Regions from separate parts of the Homo sapiens genome. Here region 1 is linked to region 2. The links come from fine-mapping of genetic effects on gene expression. A gene starts in region 2. The other region holds a variant in brackets. All regions are shown on one strand. Distances are from middle to middle.

Region 1 (9,341 bases), 28 kb before region 2:
TGGAGTACAATGATGCGATCTCGGCTCACTGCAACCTCTGCCTCCTGGGTTCAAGCGATTCTCCCACCTCAGCCTCCCGAGTAGCTGGGACTACAGCTGCTACCACGCCCAGCTAATTTTTGTACTTTTAGTAAAGACAGGGTTTCACCATGTTAGCCAAGCTGGTCTTGAACTCCTGACCTCAAGTGATCTGCCTGCCTCGGCCTTCAGAAGTGCTGGGATTACAGGCATGAGCCACCGCATCCAGCCATTCCCATTTTCTAAACTCTGAGGGGCAAAGAAAGAAAGTCAGTGGGCCAAGCTTGCACAGCTGGTAGCGCCCACGTTTCCATACCCAGGCCAGGCAGGACTCAGAAGGCCATCTCTTAAACCACCTTGCTCTGCCTTGAATCAAGGAGTTTCTCCCCAGGCTCTGTGACCAGAGTCAAACCAAGTCTATGGGACAAGCTGGGCATGGTAGCGAATGCCTATGGTCCCAGCTACTTGGGAGGCTGAGTTGGGAGGATCGCTCAGGCCCAGGAGGTCAAGGCTGCAGTGAGCTATGATCATGCCTGTGAACAGACACTGCACTCCAGCCTGGGCAACAGAGTGAGAACCTGTCTCTAAAAAAACAGGAAAAAGGAACATATGGGACAAGGCAGAAGGCTCAACGTGGAGTAGCCGGCTAGCCTAGGAGCCAACCCCTTTCTGCCTGAACTGGCCTGTTGGGATCTCGAGGGTGAAGTGGGAGCGAGAAGACTTCTGCCTGTCCAACTCTTCTCCTGCTTTCCACTTCCTAAGCTTAAAAAGCACACCTCCCGCTGCAAACTTTCCCCACCTTTAACATCCCCAGTGCTTCTCAAACTCTGTGGTGAAAGGTCAGTTTGATTCATCTTAATCCTTAATCCCTCTCAGATCTAACATCAACAAGCAGTTTAGTCCTGAGTCCTGCCACGTGGGGTCAACAGTGCTCACCCTGGCCCACACGCTGTTCGAGATGAAGCCACCAATCGCCCATTTGGATGTCATCCTGCCAATGTCAAACTACAGAAGTTTCTAAACACCAATCCCATTTTCTATGTTTAGCTCCTCCTCTTGCTTGGTTAACATTGTGCAGAACAGCACTGGTGCATGGCCCATACTTTTGTGGGGCACTGGCCTAAGAATACACAAGAATGTTTATAAATTAAAGAATTTTAAATGCAGATATATATTTCCTCTTAAGTGAAAATTCTAGCCACAGAGCCTCAAATTTCAAACACACACTTTTTTTTTCTTTTTTTAGAAACAAGTTCTTGCTATGTTGTCCATGCTGGCCTTGAACTCCTGGACTCAAGGAATCCTCTTGCTTTAGCCTCCTGAGTAGCTAAGACTATACAGGCCAAACACACATTCTTTTTTTTTTTTTTTTTTTGAGATGGAATCTCACTCTTGCCCAGGCTGGAGTGCAGTAGCACAATCTCAGCTCACTGCAACCTCTGCCTCCTGGGTTCAAGCAATTCTCCTGCCTCAGCCTCCCAAGTACCTGGGATTACAGGTGCCCACCACCATGTCCAGCTAATTTTTGTATTTTTAGTGGAGATGGGGTTTTGCCATGTTGGCCAGGCTGGTCTCGAACTCCTGACCTCAAGTGATCCTCCTGCCTAGGCCTCCCAAAGTGCTGTGATTGCAGGCATGAGCCACCGTGCCCAGCCCCAAACACACATTCTTAATTGTTACTTTTTGGGGGCCATTTAATTTTCCAAGTTCATCCAATCTGCCTCTCCTCTCTCTTAAAAATAGAAAATAATACATTTAAATGTCCTGGAATTTACATTCAACCACATGTGATCTGCTGAGTTCCATGGAGCTGAGGTTGAAAGAGAACGTTCTGTTAATGAGAAATTCACAGTGGCTGGACACAGTGGCTCACGCCTATAATCCCAGCACTTTGGGAGACCGAGGCGGGAGGATCACCTGAGGTTGGGAGCTCGAGACCAGCCTGGCCAATATGGCAAAACTCTGTCTCTACTAAAAATACAAAAATTAGCTAGGCGTGGTGGCAGGCGCCTCTAATCCCAGCTACTTGGGAGGCTGAGGGCAAGAGAATTGCTTGAACCTGGGAGCCAGAGGTTGCAGTGAGCTGAGATCGCGCCACTGCACTCCAGCCTGGGCGACAGCGAGACTCCGTCTCAAAAAAACAGAAATTCACAGTCAATACTCAGTACACAATATAATGTTAGTAGCTGGATGGCTTCCTTCAGATGAAAATGGGCTTTAGTCGATACTAGCCCAAGTATCTGCAGGTTTAATTTCAGAATAAAAAGCCACTGTAACAGTTCATAGCTGGCCCAAGCTGGCCGTAACAACACTGGCACCTAGGAATACCTGAGGGTATTTTAAGGTGCAGGCACTTGGTTCCCACCCACCCAGATCCAGTGGATTTGGGGCTGGACCCAGGCAACTGCATTTTAACAAGCTCCCCAGCAGAGAGTGAGAGATGACGTGGCCACTGAAGATGCCCCTGCTGCATGAAAACAAGAGAGATGGGCTATGACCAGTGGCTCACAAGAATTGGTCTTGGGAATGCAAAACAAGCAAAAACAAAACCAACCGGGTTTCTCCCATGGGGCAAGTGCTGTGCAAAGACCTGGTGTTGAGAGACCAGAGTTACAGTTTTTTAGAACTTCCTGTGTGTCCTCACTTAACCTCTCTAGTCTTCCGATTTCCTCAAAGGAGACAGGACAAATGAGAGCGCTGCTTCTCAAATGTGCTGAGGAATCACCCGGGGATCTTGCTAAAATGCAGATTCTGCTTCAGCAGGTCTAGGGTGCTGTGAGAGATACTTCGTTTCCATTAATAATAAGCTCCCGGGTGATGCTGCATCCTGGATCCCCCCAGGGTACATTTCAATCCCGAGAGTCTATGATTAGTCACTATATTCACACAGCTTATGTGTTCTTTTTCATTCACTTCAATCAATGTGTTGGATTAAACTCACAACTATTATTCTCATTTATGAACAAAACCCATCACCACCAACTGTCGGGTCCACAACCTCTTGAGATGAGCCTAAGCCTCCAATTCAAATGTTTCTTTAAAGAAAGAAAAAGAAATGGCCATTTTGTATTTGTTGGTATCCATTTGTTACCAAACAATCCATTAAGCATTTTTTTTTTTTTCTTTTTTTTTGAGACGGAGTCTCGCTCTGTCGCCCAGGCTGGAGTGCAGTGGCGGGATCTCGGCTCACTGCAAGCTCCGCCTCCCGGGTTCACGCCATTCTCCTGCCTCAGCCTCCCAAGTAGCTGGGACTACAGGCGCGCGCCACCATGCCCGGCTAATTTTTTGTATTTTTTTAAGTAGAGACGGGGTTTCACCGTGTTAGCCAGGATGGTCTTGATCTCCTGACCTCATGATCTGCCTGCCTCGGCCTCCCAAAG[A/T]GCTGGGATTACAGGCGTGAGCCACCGCGCCCAGCCAATTTTTTTTTTTTTAATTTGAAATGACCCTCTCTGCAGCACAGATACAGCTCTTTCCTACTGGGCATATGTGACTGCCCTGTTGGGAAGGTGGCTTCATATTCCCACCCAGATGGGCCTGCTTGGTGCCCCCTCCCCCACTGGTTAACACACACTCTGTGCGCACATGTTCAGAGTGTTCGGCCAGGGCCTGGCACATGATAAGCATTCAACTCCTGCCAGCTGTTTCGTTCAGAGACAAGGAAATGAAAGCCCAGAAGGCTTACGATTTGCTGAAAGTCAAGTTCTTGGCAAAACCAAGACCGGCCTTGAAACCCATCCCTCCTTCCTCTGTGCCTCAGTTTCCTCATCTATAAAATGGAGCTGATAGCTAATTCTTTCTTTTTTTTTTTTTTTTTTTTTTTTGAGATGGAGTTTTGCTCTTGTTGCCCAGGCCGGAATGCAATGGCGTGATATTGGCTCACTGCAACCTCTGCCTCCCAGGTTCCAGTGATTTTCCTGCCTCAGCCTCCCAAATAGCTGGGATCACAGGCATGCACCACCACATCCGGCTAATTTTGTATTTTTAGTAGAGACGGGGTTTCACCATGTTGGCCAGGCTGGTCTCGAACTCCTGACCTCAGGCGATCCATCCGCCTCAGCCTCCCAAAGTGTTGGGATTACAGGTGTGAGCCACTGTGCCCGGCCGATAGCTAATGCTAATGGCTGTTGTGAAAATTAAATAAGGAATGTCTGTAAATGCACTTAGGCTGGCACTTAATAACTGCTCATATGATTGTGATTATCAAGCTTGATCTTTTTAATTACTAAAAAGTTTTTTGGCCAGGCACGGTGGGTCACGCCTGTAATCCCAGCACTTTGGGAGGCCGAGGTGGGCGGATCACCTAAGGTCAGGAGTTTGAGACCAGCCTGGCCAACATGGTGAAACCCCATCTCTACTAAAAATAGAAAAATTAGCCGGGCATGGTGGCATGTGCCTGTAATCCCAGCTACTCGGGAGGCTGAGGCAGGAGAATCACTGGAACCCGGAGGTGGAGGTTGTAGTGAGCCAAGATCAAACCACTGCACTCCAGCCTAGACGACAGAGTTGAGACTCTGTCTCAAAAACAAAACAGAACAAAAAATTTTTTTGTAGAGACTGGGTCTTGCTACCTTTCCCAGGCTGGTCTCAATCTCCTGGCCGCAAGCGATCCTCCCACCTTGGCTTCCCAAAGTGCTAGGATTACATGTGTGAGCCACCATGCTTGGTCTATTATCAAGTTTGAAAGTCCCAGAATGACATAAAATCCATTCCCGTTTGAGTTGGAGTTTGTTCATTCTCTGTGGTTTGTATCAGCACTAACTGCCCTGGTGATGTCAAATGGCCAGAAGGGCCCCTACACCTTGCTGGGACCTTTTAGGTTGGACCAGGAGAGCTCACCACCCTGTAAATATATCCCATGACACACACCTGGCTGGTGCTCTCCCAGAGAAACCTTCTCCAGCTGAGGGAAACCCTGTGCAAATATGTTCCTGGGTCAAAGTCCTCTGAGAGGTTTCCCAGTGGGCACTCATTCCACACCCACATTTATTATCTCTATAATTGCCAGGCATGGGAGTAGGCGTTGGGAAAAAGTAAGAGCAATAAACAGAGCACAGCCTTTCCCTGCCATGAGCTTACTAAACTGTAAATAACTTGCTTTTAAATTAACATTTTCCATTATAAAATTAATAAAACCACCCATTACAAAAGGTTTGAAAAAGACGGATGAGAAAAACATGAATACTCCTTCTCACCCTAATGCAACCACTTCTTGTGTATTTCTTCCCAGTCCTCTTCATGCATGTGTTTTTCACATGGTTTTGATCACAGTGTATACAATCTGGTGTCCTACTTGTTTTCCCTTATCTGGATGCCACAAGCAATTTTCCATCTTGCATGTCCGTAATCGATCACCCATGTTCATAGTCACACCGTTCACACACATCCCCATTTGCCTGCCAATTCTTGCACTGGAGGACATTGAGATTGCTTCCCGTCTGTCCACACTGCCCAACAAATCACCTCCATGCATTCACGCACAGAGAAGATAAAGGGAAGAGGCAAATGTCAGGTAATTTGATGGTGTCAGAAGGGACTTGGTGAATAATGACACTGTGTCAACTGGGGCAAGTTACTTAACCTCTCTGAACCTCAACTTCCTGTAATATGGGCAGAATTGTAAAAAGGATTTAAACAGGAGGCCATTGGTAAACTCCCAGCACAGGGCATGATCCACAATAAATGCATGTTTTCTTTTCTCTTACATATCAGCAGGTCATGTTGGTGACTCCTAAATACCTTCTCAGAGACTGGGACAATCTGCAGAGACACCCTTGGAGCACAGTGCAGCAGCTTCCCATACCCTGCATTCAGATTGCTAAGTTCTGGGTGACAGAGGATTTGTATGCGGAACTATTGAAGGGAGAAATGATGTGTGCTCTGTAACTTTCTTCAAAATGGTTCAGGAAAAAATATATATACCTGTGCAGATGAAGCAAATATGGCAAATGTTAACATCTATTATATCTCAGCCATTGGTGTATGGGTATTTACTGTTATATACTTTCAATTTTTCTCAATAGTTGAAATTCTTTCATAATAAAATCTTTTAAAAACTCTTCTAATTTAAAAAGTTAAAAATGGTATACTTTCAAAACTTGTATTGCATTCATTAATTTCTTCAACAAATATTAATTCAATAGAGTCAACAAATATTAACTCAATTTAGTATCTGTTACGCAGAACTGACCTGGTTCCTAGCCTCATGGAGCTCACCATTTGGCATTTTCTTTAGGTCGGGCATTTGTTTGCTAATTATATCGTCTGTGCATATTGTCTTCAAATTTAAATCTTTTTTTTTTTTTTTCGAGACAGTGTCTCACTCCATCACCAAGGCTAGAGTACAGTGGCACAATCTCGGCTAACTGCAACCTCCCAGGTTCAAGTGATTCTCATGCCTCAGCCTTCCGAGCAGCTGGGACTATAGGCACACACCACCACATCCAGCTAATTTTTGTATTTTTAGTAGAGACAGGGTTTTGCCATGTTGGCCAGGCTGGTTTTGAACTCCTGGCCTCAAATGATCAGCCTGCCTTGGCCTCCCAAAGTGCTAGTATTACAGGCATGAGCAAGGCCTTCAAATTTAAATCTTGATTTTTAAAAACTAATCTATATATAGGATCTTGGTAGAATTAAAATATCAATGGCTGGGCATATGGCTCACGTCTATAATCCTAGCACTTTGGGAGGCCGAGGCAGGTGGATCATTTAAGGTCAGGAGATTGAGACAAGCCTGACCAACATGGTGAAACCCCGTCTCTACTAAAAATACAAGAATTAGCCGGGTTGGTGGCACACGCCTGTGATCCCAGCTACTTGGGAGGCTGAGGCAGGAGAATCGCTTGAACCCAGGAGTTGGACATTGCAGTGAGCTGAGATCTCGCCATTGCACTCCAGCCTGGGCGACAGAGCAAGACTCTGTCTCCAAAAAAAAAACAGAAGAAGAAAAAGAAGTTACAATTTTTTAAGGTAGTCAAATCTGTTGAATTTTTTGATGACTTTTGCTATTGGTTCTAAACTTTGGAAATAAACCTCTAGCCTAAGATTTGGCAGAGGGTAAATTGTACTTACTGTTATTTAATACTTTTACTCTTTCTTTATAATATTTATATGTTTCTGTTTCAGTATTATCATGTTGACTAGAGTGTTAAAAGCAATGTTAAATAGTGATGGTGATGGCAGACCTCCTTATTTTGTTACTGGTTTCCACAAGAATGCCTCTAGTGTTTAAGTTAATTACAGAATTGGTTATTGGTTTGAAATATTTTTTATTATGCTAAGAATGCACCCTTCTGTTCCTTTTTTTTGCTGTATTGGTTAGGTAGACATGGTTGTTCAATTTAATCATTTTTCCCCAGCACATATTGGAAACAATACGGTTTTACTTTTTTAATGCATTAGCATGACGTAGTTACTATATTAAGCTTTCCTAATATTGACTATTCTTTCCTCCTGCCCCACTGGGTTATGGTGGATGACTTGTTTAATATATTATTGAATTCTATTTCCTACCCAGCATTTTCATGCTTCAAAATAGTCTCTTTGCCATGTTTAATATCAGGCTTATTTTGCTTTGTAGAATGAACTGGAGAGCTCTCCATCTTTTGCTAAGCTGTGGAACAGCTTAGCATTATCAGTATTATCAAATTCAAAATAATTAACTAGCAAAAACACTTGGGACCAGTGTCTTTGGTGGGTAGAGGGGCAATGCTTCGATAAGGATTGAAAATTTTTTCTCAATTAGCAACATATATATTTTCAGAAAAGCATGCATTTAATTGAGATTTTGAAATTATGCCTATGATTGTGCATACGTTTCTATTATTTTAAAATCTCCTCTGTATCTATTGCAATGTCCCCTTTCTCATTCCCTTTTTTTTTTTTGTTGTTGTTGTTGTTGTTTTGTTTTTTTTCTCATTTCTCCCTTTTATTTCTCAAATAGAATTGCCAGGGGTTAGGCTACTTTACTGTTTGTTTAAAAACAGAATCAGCTCTTGGATACGTTTGCTGATTTCACTGTGTTTCCGTTTCTTAATTCATTGATTTCTGCCTTTATCTTTACTATTTTTTTCCCCTCTCATTTTCCTTAGGGGCTGTTTTTATTCTTTTTTTTTCCTAAGCACTCAGGCTGAATGCTTAGTTTATTTGCCTTTTCTCTCTCCCTTTTTAATAATAAAAGCATTTAAGGCTATGAGAATAGTGCCAGCTGTCTCCCATAGGTTTGGGTATGTGGCATTCTAGTTTTCAATGCTTTCTAAATATTTGTCAGTACATTCTTTATTTCTTCCTTGAACCAATAGCAATTTAAGTGCTTTAAATTTTTTCAAGTGGTTGGGTTTTAGTTTGTTTAAATTTACAATATTTTGGCGAGGTTTACTGCATGGTGATCAAAGGACTCCCCGACTGGCACAATTTCTGTTTTGGGTAGAATATGAGTTTTTGCAGTTGGTTACTGGTAGCTGACAGAAATGTTTGCAAAGCATATGCTCACTTGTAAAGCCCATGTGCTTTTTTAAAGTTTTTGTTTGCCATAATGTTATGTCAAATGAAAAAGAAAAATGATATAAAGTTCAATGTGCTTGTAACCATGTTTAAAATACAGTGTATTTACATATATGCAATGAAAAAGGCTGTGAGGAAATACACAAAAGTACTAAATGGTGTTGGTAATTTCCAGCTTGTGAGATTATGGAGCAATTTGTACTGTCTTTACCCTTGTCTGTGTTTATCAGATTGTCTACATAAACCATAAGGTTGACTATTTTAATAATAAGATTTCTTTAAATATGTATTTGCCCAAGGTTTGGTCACAGACATGCTCTGCTGTTAGAACAGTATTTCTGCAAAACTCCCCCTGGCCAGAGAGTGAAGGAAGCCACCAAGAAGAACTTGAGGAATAATTGGATTTAGACCCAAAAGAGTGTTGATGCCTGCAGACGGTGGCCCTGTGAGGGACCCGGTCACCCTGGCTCTGGAGGAGGAAATTCATTTTCAGGGGTGCCCCGGAGAACTGCCCTCATCCCTCCACGTCCCCTACTCTCAAATGAGCTTCCCCTGCTTACTGTCATGGCTGTTTTCTCTCACAGGGAAAAGACAGGTATATGAAAAACAGCCAGTGAAATCCAACCACAGCAACACATCCGTGCACGCTATTTTCTTTCTTCCTCAGCATGATCTCTAAAGCCCACTCAAAAAACTGCATTTTCAACCCAAGGTCAACTGCCAGAGACCAAGTGAATTCAGAGGAACTCTGGCCAAATACCCGGTGCAGGCCCTTGCTAATGGAAAGGGTGGCCGATGTTCACCTTGGATGTTCTATCGGTTCC
Region 2 (9,341 bases):
AACTAAGAGAGACAAATACACAAAGCACGTAGCATAATTCTGGCCTAAGACACATGATTATTATTATTCTCCCTATATTCTGAGTCCAATTCAAAACCTATTGTTTTAGGCCGGGTGCAGTGGCTCACGCCTGTAATCCCAGCACTTTGGGAGGCCGAGGCGGGCAGATCACGAGGTGAAGAGATCGAGACCATCCTGGCCAACCTGGTGAAACCCCGTCTCTACTAAAAATATAAAAATTAGGCTGGGTGTAGTGGCGCATGCCTGTAGTCCCAGCTACTCAGGAGGCTGAGGCAGGAGAATCGCTTGAAGCCAGGAGGCGAAGGTTGCAGTGAGCTGAGATCGCGCCACTGCACTCCAGCCTGGTGAAAGAGTGAGACTCCGTCTCAAAAAAAGAAAAAAAAAATCTAAAAAAACCTATTGTTTTGCACAAGTCTCCACCCAGGGGCTCCACCCCATTCAGGATCCTCTCTTCCCAGCCCCCTCCTGCCTCACCTGTCTGGAGCTTGTTTGAAGCAATGACTCACAGCACAACTCTGCAGCTCCCATCAATCACCTCCCTGTCCCTGCCTGTGTCATTCATGGGTTCCTTCTGGCAGGCAAATCTTCCCTAATGTCCAGTACATTCATTCAGCAAGTATCTACTGAGGGCCCACTATAGATCAGACCCTATTCTAGGCACAGGGGCTCCGCAATGAACAAAGCAAAGACGTCTACCCTCACAAACGTTCTAGTACATTTAACCCACAGATGGAAATCAGTTCAGGTCTTGGGTCCTTACACTCCTTCTCTTCTCTCCTGACCAATCCTAAATAAATCACATACAAGTCAAAGTATGAAGAAAGCATTCCAGATCAAAAAATGGTGTGATGTGAGAAAATCCCGATGACTAAACTGCTTCTCTGATTGTTGGACTTTGAAGAAGTCAGTGTTGAAACAGCCTGAATCACCCAGTTCCCCCTAGTTGTCTCACTGGCCAGTCACATCCTCCAGCACAGTTTCTGTAACACATCTGGAAAATGAGGCGCTCCATTTACCCAACTCGTGTGCGGCGTGAGCGCACGGTTTCATGCTCTCATAGCTACATTCTTTGAAGTGAGCTTGATTCGGGATCCCCAGCAGTAGCAGAGACAGTGGCCTTGTAGAAACAGCACTGGGAACAGGCTCTGAAAGCTCAGGTTGAGTGCTGGCTCTGCCACTTACTGTGTAATCCTGGGTACAGAGCTTTCTTCCTGCCTCAGTTGCTTTCAGACAATCTCTAAGGCCTTCTTCCAGCTTTGAAGTCAAAGGGCTGGGAGCAAGCACCATTAACAGCAGGCCCAGCACATTCACAGATTCCTTATTTCAACATAATGAGTCCTGCCGCGGGCTAGGCCCTGGCTAGGCCTGAGGAACGAGGGTATGGGAGGGGTCAGCAAGCCAGATTATGAGCCTGCGCCAAGCATCAGCACTGGTGGGGCCAGGGAGCTGACTTCACTTGTCTCCTCCAAGATGCGCTGGACTCCTCCTTTATTTATTTATTTACTCCCTTCTAGAAAGAAGTTGTGCTTCTTTCCAAACACAACTCTGCTAGAAATATCTCTGGGCCACAAGGCAAACCTAAAATAGAAGTGCAAAATCTCTGGTGGTCCCATTAGTCTCCCTTCCTCCAACTCAAAAACCATTCCAGACCTTGTCTGTCTCCTTGTCTCTAGACAGTGAGCCTAAAATAAGTCTCCCTGGTAGGAAATGCCTGGTTGGAATGGAAATGACCCAAGCCCTGGAAAAATGGCCCGCTGACCACACACCGTGGGCTGAGGACTCACCCAGGTATCAGCTCTGAGAAGACAAGCAAGTGAGCCCGCGTCCCACTTCAACTCACTGCAGCCCCCTCCACCAAGACACAGGCAACCAGGCCAGGCTGGAGGAAGAAAATGTGACCCAAACATCCAATTCCCCCTACCCAAAAGAAAGCAGCTCTATCCCCACGGCCCTCATGCAGGAAAGCCAGCTCCAGAAGGTCACTGGGGCACCAGGTGGGCACCTCTCTGGAGCTACAGATGACCGATCAGAGGTTCTGCTCCGAGACTGGCAGGTACCCAGCACAGTTACCCTGGCCTGAGGGTCAGCTAATAAAACCAATGAGAAAGTATAGAAAATAACATTCTCTTTAAAACAAATGAGAAAGGAATGGCCACTCTAGGTTTTCAGAAGTCAAAACCAGATAGCCCCATCGGCTTTGATCACATTAGGAATACACTGTCTCTTATCTAACGAGTTAAGAACGGTTTTCTTCTTCCCTTCTCCCACGTGGCCCCATTGGTTCTCTAGGCCCCCTGGTGAAGATGCAATAGGGACACAGACCCCCAGCCCTCTACTTGGCAGAAATGAACTTTGACTGGTTTTACTTACACGTGTACAAATGCAGGACTGAGAGGGCAGCTTCAAAGCTGGCTGAGTGACCCCCAAGAGCACAAAGTCCTTCTCCGCACACCTGTGGGGGAGTTTTGTGAATTTCCCAGATGCCCACAGGGACTAGTTATGTACACTGCAGGTCGATACCGGCCGGGAGTTTCCATTTTGCACAGCAAGAAAGGTGCTCAGGGTGCCCTTTGCAGGTGGGCACTCGGCCTGCAGCTCAAGGGTGGGCCATGACGTTGGTCCCTCACTGGATTGCCCGGCAGGCCTCCCTCAGACCCAGTAGGACGAGTACCTCGAAGAGTCCTTGTGATCCCAGCACTTTGGGAGGCCGGGGCGGGCGGATCACGAGGTCAGGAGTTTGAGACCAGCCTGGCCAATATGGTGAAACCCCGTCTCTCCTAAAAATAATTAAAAATTAAACGGGCGTGGTGGCGTGCGCCTGTAGTCCCAGCTATTGGGGAGGTTGAGGCAGGAGAATCGCTTGAACCCGGGAGACGGAGGCTGCAGTGAGCCGAGATCGCGCCACTGCACTCCAGCCTGGGCGACAGAGCAAGACTCCATATCAAGAAAAAAGAAAAGGCACCCCGGATACTGCTACGCCTTGCCCTAACCGTCTCGCAAATCCTAGAGATACATGAATGACCCTTTCAGGTTGGTTAAAATCCACACAAGCACCTCCCTGGCCTCTTAAATCTTTCCAAACTACAGCTTAGACTGGAGGGAAGCAGTTGCAGCGCCCATAAAAGTCATCTTAAAAGGCAAGTTGGAAAAAAACCCGATACGCACTAGTTAGCAAGTCCGCGGTGAAGGGGGCGGTGGCCCAAGGGCCGGATCTGCGGGATCTGTGCGCCTAGGGTGGGGAGGCTGGGGCTGCCCCGTCGGTCCCCGAGCCCGCGCGCCCACCTGGTAGCCTGAGGGCCCCGATCTGACGCTGGTGCTCACGCCCCACAGCTCCATCCAATTAGGAAAATGACCGCGAGAAGACGGAGAGAGGGCGACGAGGAGGAAGGGGGGCTGAGCCGCGGGAGGCTCAAGACGGGCCGTAGGGACCCCGCCCGCCACCCCCACCCCCACGCCCCCAGACAGCGAGCGCCGGTCCTGGGTCCCCGGCCCGCGGCGCCCCGACGCTGTCCCGGCGGAGATCCCGCGGCGCCCAGCGTGCGGCGGCCAGTGGCCCTCGGGGACGCCCCCAGCCCCGCCAGCGGCGCGCTCAGCTCTCCCCCACCCCCGGCCGGCTGGGACGCGCAACAACCCCACCCGCTCCGAGAATAAAGTTTGTGGGCAGCCGTAGGGGCGGGGCGGCGAGGGGGTGAAACTTTGAGTCCCGGGCCGGGTGTGGGGGGAGCGCACCCAGCACCGGGACACCCACGTGCGGGCCCGAGAGCCTCCGCCACCGTCGCCTCCCGGGCCTCCCGCGCCGCCGCCGCCGCCGCCGCGACGCTTTCCTTTCATTTTTGCCTCTCTCTCTCTCTCTCTCTCTCTCTCTCTCATTCGCGCGCTCTCCTCCCTCTCGCCCTCTTTCGCTCGCTCCCTCCCTCTCCCTTCCCCCTCCCCCTCCTCTCCCTCCCCCCCACCCCAGACGCCATCTCTCCCTCTTTCCCCGGCTCTCCCTCTCTCCCTCCAGCTCTCCGGCATGAGGGAATGTGGAAGTGAAAGGAAAAGACGACATGTTTGCAGCGCGGCGCGGGCCTGCGCGCGGCCGTCCCCAGGGAGAGGCGGGGGGCGGGTCGGCCGCGGCCGCAGCGACCCACCCCCGCGCCCCCCGCGCCCCCGCCGGCCGGCAGCGCGGGGCTGCGGGGCTGGGGCTGGGGCTGGGGCGGGGGGCCGCGCGGGACACTCACCCTGGGTCCGGGCGCGGCTCCTGCGCTGGGGCCCTCGGCGGGCCGGGCCGGGCCGGGCCGGGGGCTCCTGGCTGCCCACCGCCCGGGCTGCTGCTGTGCGCCCGCCGCCCGCCTCCACGCGCGCCCGCCGCCTGCTCCTGCCGCCCTCCCTCCGGCTCCTCTCTTTCTCTCTCTCCCCCCTCCTCTCGCTCGCTCTCTCGCTCGCGCTCTCTCCCTCCCTGGAAGAAGGGAATGAGGCAGGGCTGACGTGAAGGGATGCAAAACAGCTCCTCCTAAGCCAGCTCGCAGAGGAAGAGAGAGACAGAAAAGCAGCCCTTTTATCTCTCTTTTGTTTTCTCACTTCCTTCCACCCCCAACACCTCCCTCTTGTCAGCCCAAGTTTTCTTTTCTCTTTCTACCGCAGAGGATTTTTCTTCCTTTCTTTCTCTTTCTTTCGGTTCAACTCTCCCACTCGAATTGAAAGCCTGAAGGGTTTTCTTTCTCCTGTTTTTTTCTTCCCTCTTTTCTTCCTTCTTCCTCCTTTCTTATTTCTCTAAAAGGGTTTTGTTTGCTGTGGGAGTTTCGTTTGAAAATCAAGTCACGCCTTTTTTCCTTCTTTTCTTTCTTTCTCTCTCTCTCTTTTTTTTTTCTCCTCTCAGCAGAAAAGGGGAACAAAGATTAACTGAAGCGGGGAAGAGGCAGACCTCGCTTGGAAATGGGGGGCCCGGCCCTGTCCGGTACAAAGGGGGCCCGGGGGCCCTGCGCCCCGCCCCCCCCAAGGGAAGCCAGGGGCGTCCTCTGGAGAGGAGAGCCGGTGCGGGTGTTGGGGCACGGGTGCGGCTCCTGGGTGCCGGTTCCTTCCCAAGTGCGAGCGAGGGCCGCCGAGCCCGCCCCTCCCCAGCCAGAGGTGGCAAGCTGGGTGTGTGTGCTTCACTTATGTATTTTTAAAGTAGGCAGATGGGCCTGGAACAAACATCCCCGCAGAGCACTGAACAGCAAAAGCCTTTAAACAGCTGTTAGCAGAGCCCTGGACGGCCTGACTCGAGGGAGCGGCGCGGGCTCCGAGCGCCAGGGCCCGGGTGGAGAAGGGGCTCAGGGCAGCTGCTGGGATCGGCGGGCTGGCGGGGTCCCCGAGCCCAGGGCCTGGGCCTCGGCCCCGGGGCGCACTGCTGGGGGGCGCCGAGGCGTGGTCGCTGGCAGCGCGGCCGTCAGGTCCCTCTCGGCTCCCTGAGGGGCCGCGGGGTTTGGCACAGCCTCGCCGCCCTCCAGCTCCGGCGCAGGCCGGACACCAGGCCTCCAACCTCCAGAACACCCGCCACTCCGAGCCGTTTCTCGACTGCAACGCAGGGCGGGTCCGGAGCCCTCGGACAGAGCCGGGCAGTGCCGCCAGGAAGGGTCAATTATTCATGGGGCGCCCGGGCGTGCTCCCAAGACCTGCTCTGTCCTCGGGTTCTCCGGAGGAGTGGGGAGAAGACGGGGGAAAGTTCCCAAAGCAAAGTTGGTCACATTTGTCATTTTCCCAAGTAAGTATTGAGCACCTGCTGGATGCCGGGCCCTCGGACTGGGGCTGCAGCCAGGGGGAGAAACGTGAGGTCTCGGTGGGCCCCGAGAGCAAACTCAGGGAACAATGCAAGGGAAGCTGCGGCTCAGGACCAGGTCACCGGGAGGAAGGAAAGCCTGGATCCTCTCCCCTCCCTCTTCCCTTCCTTCCCTTCCCTTCCTTCCTCCCGGCTGCATCTCCTTGGCTCCACCCCTTCTCCTCATCAATTCCTCCCACACTTCCCTGCTCTCCCTGGCTTTTCACTGAAGGGTCCCTTCTCCCAGGGAGGAGCAGATGCTGAGCCCCATTGTCTCTCCCCCAGTGACTGCAGCCTCCCGGGGACACGACCTGCCACTCCTCACCCCTCCCCCCAGCCCTGAGCCCTGGGCCTTTAGAAACGAGAGCCCCAAGGCCACGGCCCCTCGCCCCACCCTAAACCAGCTCCTGGTGCTCTGAGCTATGACTCCAGTCACTCAGAACACATTTGTCTCTGACGAGGAGTGAGGAAACAGTAGCCTGAGAGTTTGGTTCAACAAGAAGGACACCATGGTCTTTTAACATCAGCACCCTGAGCCCCCAATGACCCCAGGGCCTTTGCCCAGGTCTGCAGGAAACCACATTTCCGTCATCACTTGCAGCCTCCCACTTAGTACACCCAAGCTGCATCCTCCAAAAAAGCAGAATGCAGCTCTTAGAGCCAAGCATGCACTTAACAAATGCCTACTGAGTACCTACCCCGTGCCGGCGAAGGTGCTGGCTGCTGAGGACCGAATCATCAGCAAGACGCAGTCCTTGCTTTGGCCTTTGGCTTTGCAGGCGAAGGAGCAAGAAAAGAAGACAGCAACCTCAGTGCCATGCGATACAGGCAAGAGTGAACCAAGAAAGCTCCTAAGAGGGTGCTTGGACTAAGGTGGTCAGGTGTGGCTTCCTGGAGGAGGTCGTGTCTAGATTAGGCTGTGCTAGCCAAATGCATGGGAGAGAACAGTCTGTCCAAAGGCCCCAGGGCAAGACGGCACATTATTACAGGTTCTTAGAACTGTCAAGAGTTGAAGTGTTTACTGCAGCTTAGAATACAAGTGGGTGGGGGGAGAGTGAGGATAGAGCACAAGTGGGAAAAAGGGGAGGGTGTCAGGGAAATATTCAGATTTTAGCCCCTCCCACTTGCTAACTTCATGAATGTAAATGAATAACATAACTTCAGTGAATAACTTCGACTTAATTTCGGGACATATAAAATGCAGGTAAGAAGACCTGTGGATTGCAGAGACAGTGTCTTAGTTTAAGGGCCCAGGCTTACCTGCTGCATATTCCTGGGCAAGTCAACCTCTCTAACTTTTCTGTAAAATAGGGATAAAAATACCTGCTTCACAGTTTGTTGTGAGGCTCAAACCCCACACCTAGCATGGTGTCCGGTACATAAGCACCAATCCCCGGTAGCTTTTATTTACTATTACTACAAATCAGGGAGTGACTGGGTAGTGCCCCGATGACCTGGAAATAAGATTACGTTCAGGGTTGAAACCAGAGTGACTCACCACACCAGAAACATGATGAGCTGACTGAGGGGGAAGCATTCCTTCAAAGATGACCAGTGTCCCACTGGGAGGCTGGGATTGGTGAACACCACATCCGATCAAGATGGCCAGGTGGCTTCTCAGGAACATGACCAGAGCTTGATGACTGGTTATCAAGGCCCAGCCTGATCAGCAGAGTTGTAGCCTGCCTGAGGAACAAATAGGAATCAGGAGAGGATGGGCCTCATGAAATCCAGGAAGGCCCCTGGGAGCAGGCACCTGGCTATGTTTGCTCAGGAGAGAGACGTAATCACAGAAGTTTGCACTGGAGGAGCAGGGGAGGGATAGGGGGTGATTATTGACTTCTCCACAACGTGATTTAAAGCTCCCAAAACCTCTTAGTCCTTTGGTTGGATTATTGGTTCTCCAAGTGACCTGCACATGAACTTGGCACCAGCCAAATGCCCTCAAGGATCCAGGCAGATACCACAGCTCCAGTTCCTGCTTTGTAAACATTTTACACTTCTATTATTTCTTTCGTGAGTGGGAGTCTCGCTCTGTCACCCATGCTGGAGTGCAGTGGCACGATCTTGGCTCACTGCAACCTCCGCCTCCTGGGTTCAAGCGATTCTCTTGCCTCAGCCTCTCGAGTAGCTGGGATTACAGGTATGTGCCACCACACCCAGCTAATTTTTTTTTTATTTTTAGTAGAGACAGGGTTTTGCCCTGTTGACCAGGCTGGTCTCAAACTCCTGACCTCAGGGGATCTGCCTGCCTCGGCCTCCCAAAGTGCTAGGATTACAGGCATGAGCCACTGCGCCCAGCCCTCTGTTATTTCTTTACAACACAAGTTCATTGTGAAAGAATTCGAAAACGAACCCTATCTAGAGACATATTTCGGTGTATATCCTTGGACATTTTATATCCTAGTGGCTACATGTAAGTGCACACCATAATAAAACTGTACAAAGTCAATATCATTAAGCAAATGATGACTCTATGTATAAGCATGTTATTTTTACAAAATTAACAAAAATGGCATAACACTACACCTACTGAATTGCAGCTACTTTCACCCGGTATATGTCACAAATTATCTTCTGGTCTGTAAACATCCACATTCTTCTTTGGATACAGGGTCTTGCTCTGTCAGCCAGGTTGGATTACAGTGGCATGATCATAGCTCACTGCAGCCTCGAACTTCTGGGCTCAAGCCATCCTCCCACCTCAACCTCCCGAGTAACTAGGGTTACATTTGTGTGCCACCATGCTCGGCTGTATTTTTTCTTTTTGTTTTTTGGTACAGACTGGGTCTTGCTATGTTGCCCAGGCTGGTCTCGAACTCCTAGGTTCAAGCAATCCTCCTGCCTCAGCCTCTCAAAGTGTGGGGATTACTGGCATAAGCCACCTCACCCAGCCCACATTGTCATTCTTAGTGAATGATATTATTCCATGGTATGTGTGTATCTTAATTTGTTTAAACAAATTGTTAGACTCATGGGATGTTTGCAGGTTTTTCGCTTTTATGAACCTGCTTTGATAAACATACCTGTACAGCCACCTTAGTGCGAGGCTGGGCTAAGCACTTTATTTGAGGTAGGTGTCATTATCATTTTACAGAGGAGGAGGCTGAGGCACCGAAAAGCTTAAAAACTTCCTAAGGTCACTACCATGGAGTGTCTGAGCCAGAATGTGTAGACAGGGTTTCCCTTTGGGAATTCTCTTTCAACATGTTTTCCCCTCTTTAGAGTCTCCTCCACTTTCCATACCAATTTCCTCTCTTACAGATTACCTCCCTGTGAGAACCTGTCTGGACAGGTGACCCACTTCCTTTTGTGACACCTTTTTAACTTAAATAATGCCCACCTTCTAGGGTTGTTGGGAGAAGTGGAAGCCGATAATATATGATGTGTAATGTATGATACTGTATTTTGTAAATTTCAAAGCCTATGTGAACGTTAGAAGGTCCCAGTGAGGCCCTAAGCTTGCAGACATCACTATTTAGCCAAATCTCCTGACTTGCCCAAACCCAGCAAGGAATCCTCCAGATTCACACCAGAAAGAAAG

Evidence for each region. PIP is the estimated chance that this variant, and not a neighbour inherited with it, causes the effect. A credible set is the group of variants that fine-mapping cannot tell apart.
Region 1: its variant is the best candidate, but not a certain one, in a credible set for the expression of ZNF710 in whole blood (TOPMed, PIP 0.64).

Annotation. Positions count from the first base shown.
Region 1 is chr15:90,024,828-90,034,168 of GRCh38, reverse strand. The region is part of intron 1 of ZNF710 (zinc finger protein 710); the gene reads right to left. Among named protein-coding and RNA genes, the nearest start is that of MIR3174, 23 kb to the right of the region's middle. The variant A/T (reference allele first, on the strand shown) is at 3,399.
Region 2 is chr15:89,996,515-90,005,855 of GRCh38, reverse strand. It overlaps ZNF710 (zinc finger protein 710), which reads right to left and starts at 4,532. Exons shown (of 5, transcript NM_198526.4): 1 at 4,242-4,532. RefSeq lists enhancers at 2,183-2,950, 2,951-3,719 and silencers at 3,419-3,918, 4,334-4,502, 4,911-5,080.